Linked DNA regions of Homo sapiens. The protein of the gene in region 1 purifies or fractionates together with the protein of each later gene. This does not show direct contact. Each region holds a gene or a part of one and is shown in the gene's direction. Other genes may lie near its edges.

The links.
Region 2: the proteins of TMEM41B (region 1) and TMEM43 purify together in Homo sapiens (affinity purification with mass spectrometry; 2 studies listed by BioGRID). This does not show direct contact.

What each region holds. Positions count from the first base shown.
Region 1 is NC_000011.10:9,302,967-9,308,421, reverse strand, and holds part of TMEM41B (transmembrane protein 41B), read left to right. Parts: intron 1-5,455. UniProt on the Homo sapiens protein: Phospholipid scramblase involved in lipid homeostasis and membrane dynamics processes. Has phospholipid scramblase activity toward cholesterol and phosphatidylserine, as well as phosphatidylethanolamine and phosphatidylcholine.
Region 2 is NC_000003.12:14,130,575-14,135,051, forward strand, and holds part of TMEM43 (transmembrane protein 43), read left to right. Parts: intron 1-247; coding exon 248-382; intron 383-1,005; coding exon 1,006-1,100; intron 1,101-1,971; coding exon 1,972-2,021; intron 2,022-2,288; coding exon of another isoform or gene 2,289-2,291; coding exon 2,292-2,361; intron 2,362-3,164; coding exon 3,165-3,235; intron 3,236-4,195; coding exon 4,196-4,317; intron 4,318-4,477. UniProt on the Homo sapiens protein: May have an important role in maintaining nuclear envelope structure by organizing protein complexes at the inner nuclear membrane. Required for retaining emerin at the inner nuclear membrane.

The sequences.
Region 1 (5,455 bases):
AAGGCAAGGAATGGAATATTTTATTTAGCAAGTTCTCCATCTTAATGATTTATTGATTTAAAATGTCCAAGGTTGGCCAGGTGCGGTGTCTTGCTCTGTTGCCCAGGCTGGAGTGCAGTGGCGTGATCTCAGCTCACTGCAACCCCCATCTCCCAGGTTCAAGTGATTCTCATGCCTCAGCCTCCCCAGTAGCTGGGATTACAGGCGCATACCACCACGCCCAACTAATTTTTGTATTTTTAGTAGAGGGTTTTACCATGTTGGCCAGTGTGGTCTGGAACTCCTGACTTCAAGTGATGTGTCCACCTCAGCCTCCCAAAGTGCTGGGATTACATGTGTGAGCCACTGTGTCTCGCCTCTGTTGTGTTTTTAAAAAATGATTTTAAGGCTGGGCGCGGTGGCTCACGCCTGTAATCCCAGCACTTTGGGAGGCCGAGGTGGGCGGATCACGAGGTCAGGAGATCCAGACCACGGTGAAACCCCGTCTCTACTAAAAATACAAAAAATTAGCCGGGAGAGGTGGCGGGTGGTGCCTGTAGTCCCAGCTACTTGGGAGGCTGAGGCAGGAGAATGGCGTGAACCTGGGAGGCGGAGCTTGCAGCGAGCCGAGATTGCGCCACTGCACTCCAGCCTGGGTGACAGAGCAAGACTCGAAATAAAATTAAAAAAATGATTTTATTGGCTGGGCACAGTGGCTCATGCCTGTAATCCTAGCACTTTGGGAGGCTGAGGCAGGCAGATCACCTGAGGTCGGGAGTCTGAGACCAGCCTGACCAACATGGAGAAACCCCATCTTTACTAAAAATACAAAATTAGCCGGACGTGGTGGCCCACGCCTGTAATCCCAGCTACTTGGGAGGCTAAGGCAGGAGAATTGCTTGAACCTGGGAGACGGAGGTTGTGGTAAGCCAAGATCAAGCCATTGCACTCCAGCTTGGGCAACAAGAGAAACTCGATCTCAAAAAAAAAAAAAGATTTTATTTTATGATACTTCAGCTGTTTAAATTTATACTTGATGTTAATACCATTTTCAATTAATTTTTTTAATAGTTTAAGACCGTTGAAATAAAGTTTATTTCTGACAATATTACAGTGGATTCTTGTGACCTTAAGAGACTTGTTGGCCTGTAAGCTTATGTCCTTAGGATAAATGGATTTTTTTTCCTTCGTTCGTGGTGGGATCAAGTATATCTAGAAAACACTGAATATTGAAAACTAATGGACTAGATGACCAGTGTGAGTCATTCCTAAGATCTCGTAGACATTGGAATATTTTGCTTTGTAAAAGTAGTAGGAGAATTATGGAGCTACTGGAGGGACATTAAGGTTAAATTATTTTTCAGGATGGATTTATGCATATTGGAAGTTAAAGGAAAGGTACTTGTAAGAGGGAAAAATTGAAGATGTTGAGTATATGGAGAAAGAATTCAGAGAGCAAGATATAGAAGGAAGTGTGTTGACATTTAATGATAAGATGAAGGGAAAGGAGCAAGGGAAGATAATTTTGTGAACAAATCTTGAGGGAGAGATTGGGGTGCTCATTAAAGTAGGAGGCAGCATCATTGGTTGCAGTTAAAGGAAGGTAAAATCAAAGGCTTAAAGTGACTTGAAATAGCTCTTTTGGGGACTGCTATAAAAGAATTACTGTTTGCCAGTGATATCCCTAACTGAAGTTAGAAAAACATGTTGAACGTCTTGTAGGCCAAGAGCGTGATTCTGGCTTTCTTTTTTTTTTTGAGACGGAGTCTCGCTCTATCGCCCAGGCTAGAGTGCGGTGGCGCCATCTCAGCTCACTGCAAGCTCCGCCTCCCGGGTTAATGCCGATTTCCTGCCTCAGCATCCTGAGTAGCTGGGACTACAGGCGCCCGCCACTGTGCCCGGCTAATTTTTTTTGTATTTTTTTAGTAGAGACGGGGTTTCACCGTGTTAGCCAGGATGGTCTCGATCTCCTGACCTCATGATCCGACCGCCTCGACCTCCCAAAGTGCTGGGATTACAGGCGTGAGCCGCCATGCCCGGCGAATTCTGGCTTTCTATAACAGTACCTTTGGCCTGGGAGGAGGTTGGAAAAGCACATAATAGGGTAATTCAGACTGGGAATTAGTATGATGGAAGCTTTGGAGGTTACTAAATACAGAGTACTGGCTGGGCGTGGTGGCTCCCGCCTGTAATCCTAGCACTTTGGGAGGTTGAGGTGGGCGGATTACCTGAGGTCAGGGGTTCGAGACCAGCCTGGCCAACATGGTGAAACCCCGTCTCTACTAAAAATACAAAAATTAGCTGGGGGTGGTGGCCCATGCCTGTAATCCCAGTTGCTTGGGAGGCTGAGGCAGGAGAATGGCTTGAACCCAGGAGGTGGAGGTTGCAGTGAGCCGAGATCACACCACTGCACTCCAGCCTGGGTGATAGAGCAGGACTCTGTCTCAAAAAAAAAAAAAAAAAGAAAAGTGCTGGTGTAAGTAGCTGTAAATGCTAAAAGGCACATGTGTGTAATGTGGCCATAAGGCACATTATAAATGTGTATACTATAAATTTAGATGTAGACCTATAAAAACAAGATTTGGTAGACTCTGTCTACCAAAAAGAAAAAAAAATTAGTAATGGTTTTGAAGGTTTTAAAAGATGCTCATAATATGAAATTATTTTTGTTAGTTTTTCTTATACTCTGGACCTGATTCTAGCAGGAAAGTAAGTTAAAACTGGGCTGGGGCAAGTTAATTGGATTTAAAAGTAGCATACTTTTAGATGGATTTAAAAGTAGCATACCTTTAAGAAGTGTATGATGTGAAGTGTGCCTCCAAAACAGTTTAATATCTATAATTCATCTATAATTAATATCTGTTGCCCAGGCTGGAGTGCAATGGCGCAACTTTGGCTCACCACAACCTCCACCTCCCAGGTTCCAGCAATTCTTGTGCCTTAGCCTCCCCAGTGGCTGGGACTACAGGGGTGTGCCACCACGCCTGACTAATTTTTTATATTTTTAGTAGAGACAGGGTTTCACTATGTTGGCTAGGCTGGTCTCGAACCCTTGACCTCAGGCAATCTGCCCACCGTGGCCTTCCAAAGTGCTGCGATTACAGGAGTGAGCCACGACACCTGGCCTATAATTATAAATTATCATAATGGACATCCTGAAAAAATATACACTACTTGCATGTATAATGTGTCTTTGCTTTGATGTCAGCCTACAGAAAACTCAATACTTATATATATATATTACCCTCATTCCTTACCTACTTTATTGAATAGCTTTTTATTGAATAAAAATATATAGAAAAATAACTATTTTAGCCTTGTGAAAACGGTTTGTGTTTAAATAGGTTTTCTAGCCCGGTTCTATGGCTCATACCAGTAATCCCAGCACTTTGGGAGGCTGAGGCAGGAGGACTGCTTGAAGCCAGGAGTTCAAGACCAGCCTGGGCAAAATAGTGAGACCTGGTCTCTAAATACAAAACCAAAAAATTGCTGGGCGTGGTGGCTCACGCCTGTAATTCCAGCACTTTGGTAGGCCAAGGGGGGCAGATCACGAGGTTAAGAGATCAAGACCATCCTGGCCAACATGGTGAAACCCCATCTCTACTAAAAATACAAAAATTATCTGGGCATGGTGGCGTGTGCCTGTAGTCCCAGCTACTTGGGAGATTGAGGCAGGAAAATTGCTTGAACCCAGGAGGCGGAGGTTGTAGTGAGCCAGGATCACGCCACTGCACTCCAGGCTGGTGACAGAGTGAGACTCCATCTCAAAAAAAAAAAATTAATTAATTAATTAAGCAGACATGGTCACAAACACCTGTGGTCCCAGCTAGTCAGGAGGCTGAGGCAGGAGGATTGAAGCTGAAGGCATTCAACTCCCAGGAGTTGAAGGCTGCAGTGAGCTATGATTTCACCACTGCACTCCAGCCTGGGCAACAGAGTGAGACACCGTCTCATAAAAGTAAATAAATAATAAATAAATGGGGTTTATATTTATAAACCAAAACAACGTTTTTTATTCAATTGGATTTAGTACACCCTGATGTTTTTGCTTTTTGCTGATTATGCTTTCTTTTTTTAGAGAATATAACTTCTGAGTGAATATAACTTATTAGGAGGCCTCAAGATACGTATTGAATTAGGTAATAGCCAGAGCATAAATGTAATGACAGTTAGGTATTTGTTATTACAAGATTCTGCAGAGACCTTTTCATGTTTGACCTACCTGAGATGTTTAAAGTGTGTTTTTAATTCTCTGTGTTCCAAAAAAGCATACATATCAATACGTCTGTGGGTTAATGAACTAGAGTATTAAGAGACAGGCATTCTTGGTTTATTGTTCCATCAGAAGGTACCTTTGTACTATATTATTATCCTCTTCCTTCCTGCAGTAAATTTCATAAGTAAGAGTTGAGCAAATCTCCTTTTTGAGATTAAGATGAAATATAACAAAGTTAGAATAACAGGGACTGATTGGAGGCCGGGCGTGGTGGCTCACGCCTGTAATCCTAACACTTTGGGAGGCCAAAGTGGGCGGATCACCTGACGTCAGGAGTTCGAGACCAGCCTGGCCAACAATGTGAAACTCCGTTTCTACTAAAAATACAAAAATTAGTTGATCCTCGTGGCGTGTGCCTGTAATCCCAGCTACTCCAGAGGCTGAGATGGGAGAATGGCTTGAACCTGGGAGGCAGAGGTTGCAGTGAGCTGAGATCCTGTCACTGCACTCCAGACTGGGCGACAGAGGCTGGGCCACAGAGCAAGACTCTGTCTCAAAAAAAAAAAAAAAAAAAAAGAAAAAGAATAATAGGGACTAGTTGGGAAGTTAGATTGTTTAGATTACTGAAAGTAGGAAAAGATAATTTAGTTTTTTATAGAAAACTTGCTAAATTTAATGAATAGGTAAGAATAATTTATATTTAGTATTATCAAAGCACTAACCTAAGCAATTCTTATTTCAACAGAAATTACAGGTAAATTATAAACAGATATTAAAATGCTTTGCAGACTGGGCACACTCATTCACGCCTATAATCCCTGCACTTTGGTAGGCCGAGGTGGGCAGATCACCTGAGGTCAGGAGTTCAAGACCAGCCTGGCTAACATGGTGAAACCCCCATCTCTACTAAAAATATAAAAATTAGCTGGGTGTGGTAGCACACGTCTGTAATCCCGGCTACTTGGGAGGCTGAGGCAAGGGAATCACTTGGACCAGCCTGGCCAATATGGTGAAACCCCGTCTCTACTAAAAATACAAAAAAAATTAGCCAGTGTGGTGGCACATGCCTGTAATCCCAGCTACTTGGGAGGCTGAGGCAGGAGAATTGCTTGAACCTGGGAGGTGGAGGTTGCAGTGAGCCGAGATCGTGCCACTGCAGTCCAGCCTGGGCAACAGAGCGAGACTCCTTCTCAGACAACAACAACAAAATGCTTTGGAAATACACTTCACATTATTTGGTTCCTTTTAGAGATAGGGTCT
Region 2 (4,477 bases), on another chromosome or scaffold:
CAGTGCTAAGATTGGTGGGGGCTAGTGGGAACCAATGGGGCAGTAGGAAGAAGTCTCCCTGGGAAAGCAGGAATCTGGGTTCCAGTCCTTACTCTCCACTTGCTAGACCTCAGTTTTCCAACTGTACGGTGGGGAGATGGGTCTCAGCGCTCCCGGAGGCCCCATCCTACCCTAATACTTTGCAACAAGCACAGTCATGCTGAGCCACCCCTGAGCTGTTGAAATCCCCACTCCCCTTTGCTCCCAGGGCCGCGCATTGAAGACGGCAACCTCATTGGCTGAGGGGCTCTCGCTTGTGGTGTCTCCCGACAGCATCCACAGTGTGGCTCCGGAGAATGAAGGAAGGCTGGTGCACATCATTGGCGCCTTACGGACATCCAAGGTAGGTTTGGCAGGGGATGCTGACCTGCCAGTGGCTCGGGGCTCATCCTGGATGTTGTCTGGCTGAGGATTTGAAAGCATGGGCCTTGGAGATGGTCACACATGGGAGTGATTCCCGACTTTACCACTCAGCAGCTGTGTGGACTTGTCTATCCTGAGTCTCAGTGTCTTCGTGTATAAAATGGGGACGGTAATGGTTACAAGCTTGTGGCCAGCCTTGAGGATTTGGTGAGATTAGGTAACTAACGCCTTGGTACAGTGGCTGGCACTCAGGGAGGTGCTCTCATGACTCTGATGACCATGTGTGTCCAGTGCAAGGCCACAAAACTACCCTGGGCACCAGAGCTTTCCTGTTATTTGAACACCCTGTACGCTGTTGGCACCATGCCATTGGGCCATGCAGCCCAGGCCTGTACTGTGAGGGTCACAGTCACAGGCACTGTGTGTAAAGAACCTGGGACAGGGAGTGTCCTCGATTCTCCCCTGCAAAGCAGTGTAGGGCTCTCCACCCTTGTCCCCTTCTCTATTTCTTCCTCTTCCAGTCCAGCTTCCCCTGAGCCAGGCTTTCTGGGCTGACGTGAATGTTATCCTTTATTTTTTTGGTTTCTTTGATTCTGTTTGAAGCTTTTGTCTGATCCAAACTATGGGGTCCATCTTCCGGCTGTGAAACTGCGGAGGCACGTGGAGATGTACCAATGGGTAGAAACTGAGGAGTCCAGGTGAGCTGTTGGGGTGAAAACTCTGTTGGGGTAAAGGAGGAGTGAAGTGTAGGTGTCAGGATAACATGCAGATGTCTTTCATTTTGATACCTTTGAAACTCAAGTATAACATCTTCCTATCAGAAAAGTGTGAAATGATCCCCAAATTAATAGCCAGTGATTTGGAAGTGGCAAAAATCCAGTGAAGAGTGGCTCCAGGAGGAAAGGGGGATTGAGTTGCTCCCACATCTGGGAAGTTCCAGAGATGCACAAGCTTGAAGCATGACTTGGAGCAGGCCTGAAACACTGTCATTAGGATCAGCATGTCAACCCCGAGACCCCACTGCATCTCTCTGTGTTCAGCCTTCCCATCAGCTGTGTTGGTCCCATCTTTGCTCTACTTACAGCTTATCGTTTCTGACAGGAGTCCCAGGGCAGGTTCTCATTGATCAGGGCTGGGGTCACCTGGAGCTGGGGGTGGGTTCAGCCCCACCTGAATCATATGGACTGTGACCGACAGGTGGGGAGGTGGTGGGAGGAGCAGGAGAAGGGCAGCTTCAAGAGGCCCCCCGCAGGGCTGTCCTGGAGCAGAGGATGCAGCCAGATCTCTGAGCCCAAAGGGCAGGGCTGGGCCCCTTGGTGTAAGGCCAGTGCGGGCAGATTTCAGCTCAGGATGGGAGAGCGCTTTCCTCCAGGTAGCGCCTTGGAGGGCAGGAGCTGGCTGTCTGTCAGGAGTGAGTGCCCTGTCTTGGGGCTGGTGTAGAGAAGGCATCTGCCGTATCTGGGGAGTCTGATCTGGTAGCCCTGAGGTTGCTTCCTGCTCAGATGCTTAGAGATTAGACTGCCTGGGGCGACGAGGCTAACCCCCGTGGCTGCTTTGCTTTCCCTGCAGGGAGTACACCGAGGATGGGCAGGTGAAGAAGGAGACGAGGTATTCCTACAGTGAGTGCTGGGCCCCTTACGTGGTCTCTGCCCATGGTGGGGGCCCACAGTGGTGGCTGGACAGCAGGGCTGTTGGTGGGGCCATGGGAAGGATTCAGCACCAGGCATCAGGATCCCTGGGTGCAAGTCTTCAGAGCCCTGCTTTCCCACCCATCCATTGAGGCTCCCTGACCCACCCCTTTGGCTGTGAGATAGGAGGAGCTGGGCTGGTGGGTCTCAGCCGCGTGCCACTCCTACCCGGGCTCTGAGTTGATTCCTCTCCCTGAGCAGACACTGAATGGAGGTCAGAAATCATCAACAGCAAAAACTTCGACCGAGAGATTGGCCACAAAAACCCCAGGTGAGAGCCAGGCCCAAGGCCTGAGTGCAGCTTTGTCTACACTGGCAGGTCTCCAGCCTCAGTTTCTTCATCTGAATAACAGGATTGAGTTAATCCTGCCTCGTGGGTTGAAAATGTGGGACATGGGTTTGAGACCAAGCCCTGTGCTGGGCACCAGGAACACAGAGACTTGTCTCCCCTGACCCCAGACAAGCTCCCCGCAAACAAGTCACAAATATAAGGCCTGCACTAAGCGTCTAAGGGGATTTGCACACACGGGGCCGGGGAAGCATTTTGTTAATGGTTTGCCATGGGTGGGAGGACAATCAGGACAGGCTTTCCAGAGGCAGCGGCATTTGTTCAGGCTTCTCAGGATTTCAGCAGAGGGAGGTTAGCTCCACGGCATGCCAGTGGTGAGGCGGGCATAACACTTGGGTGTGGCTAGAGAGCAGGCCTTGTTCAGCAATGGTCTGGGCTGTGCCAGTAAGATGGTTGGGATGGAATGCTCTGGGAGGGGCTAGTGAGGGGTGTAAAGTCCATGCAAGATACATCTGACAGCAGTGGGTGGGGCAGGACAGGCTGGCAGGGGTCTAGGCAAGAGGGTAGGAAGCTCCGGGGAACAGGAGACAGAGTGAGGGTGCTCAGCCCAGGGGAGGGGGCACAGGGCCCCTGGGGGTGGACAGGACAAGATGTCTGCTGCGCCTGGGCTAATCTGGACTTGCAGGAACCCCCGGGTGGGGACCCTGCCCAGCACAAACAACCCAAAGGGACCCGGGCAGCTCCCACACCGGTGCCCATCTCTGACAGCTTCCTCTCTCCCACAGTGCCATGGCAGTGGAGTCATTCATGGCAACAGCCCCCTTTGTCCAAATTGGCAGGTTTTTCCTCTCGTCAGGTAAGTCTCAGGCCTCTCCAGAGGAGCTCGTGCCAGAAGCACAAGGCCCCCCTAGGGCCGGAGCTCCCAGTACTCAGCCTTCAGAGGGCTAAAGGCACAGGATCAGTCTGCACCTTTCCCAGCACCATGCTTTGGGGGCCAGGGGAAGGCGAATCCCCAGGAAGCAAGGGCTGACGTAGAAACCCCCACCCCACTCCATCCTACCAGGTTCCTCTGAAATCTGGGTTGTTCCAGAGAATGACTCAGGCATGCATCCTCACCCTGCTGCGTGCCGGTGTCTGCTGAGTAGACTCTGCTGAGACAGTCCTTCCTCAAGCAGACTCCGGCTAGTAGTAGACATGTGGTGGCTCAGTGCTCTCAGCCTAGGGCTCCCCCTCTCTGAGTTCCACCTGTCCCAGGAAGGCACTAGCTTATCACAGGCATCCCCCATTGACTCCAAAGAGAAGCTTGCAAGGGATAAGGTGGCACCATGGGCCAGAGTAACCCTGGGGCTCTGTTCCTGGGCCTGACCCATGAAGGTGGGAGAGGATACCAAGGGCCCAGATAGTCCTGGGGAGGCTGGATGATCCTGGGCCTGGCCTGGCCGCTTTCTGTGTGCTTTGTTGCTGGATGGTGCCTGTGTGCCAGCTGGGCCTGCCCTCAAGTAGCTCTCAACCCAGGAGGTGAGTCAGGCTTGGACGTGGATGGCCGTAACCTTGATGGAAGGGAAAAGGGCTAAGGCCACTCCCAGTGCTGTGGTCACTCTGACTTGGTGGGAGAGGGCACAGGGAAAGCTTCCTGGAGGAGATGGTCTAACCCAGGGGAAGCCGTGGACGAGACAGAGTCAGAAAGAGGCACTGCAGGTGGGAGTGCCACGTGTGCAGGCTCCAGGGGTGCAGTGGAAGGGGGTCAGGCCAGGGACTTTGCAGATTGAGGTTTTCACCTGGTCCCCTGGGTTTCTAACCACTCTGGTCCCCTCAGGCCTCATCGACAAAGTCGACAACTTCAAGTCCCTGAGCCTATCCAAGCTGGAGGACCCTCATGTGGACATCATTCGCCGTGGAGACTTTTTCTACCACAGCGAAAATCCCAAGTATCCAGAGGTGTGCGGAGAGGCCTGGGCTCTCCAAATAGGAGGGTCAGGGCGCTAGGATCAGGTTCCTGCGCCAGGCAGATTCAGTTCAGTCGCATGCACAGCTGCACTTGGCCAAGTGCAGCTGAGTGGGAGAGGCCCTCTGGGTGACGGCACAGCCTGGGCACGGG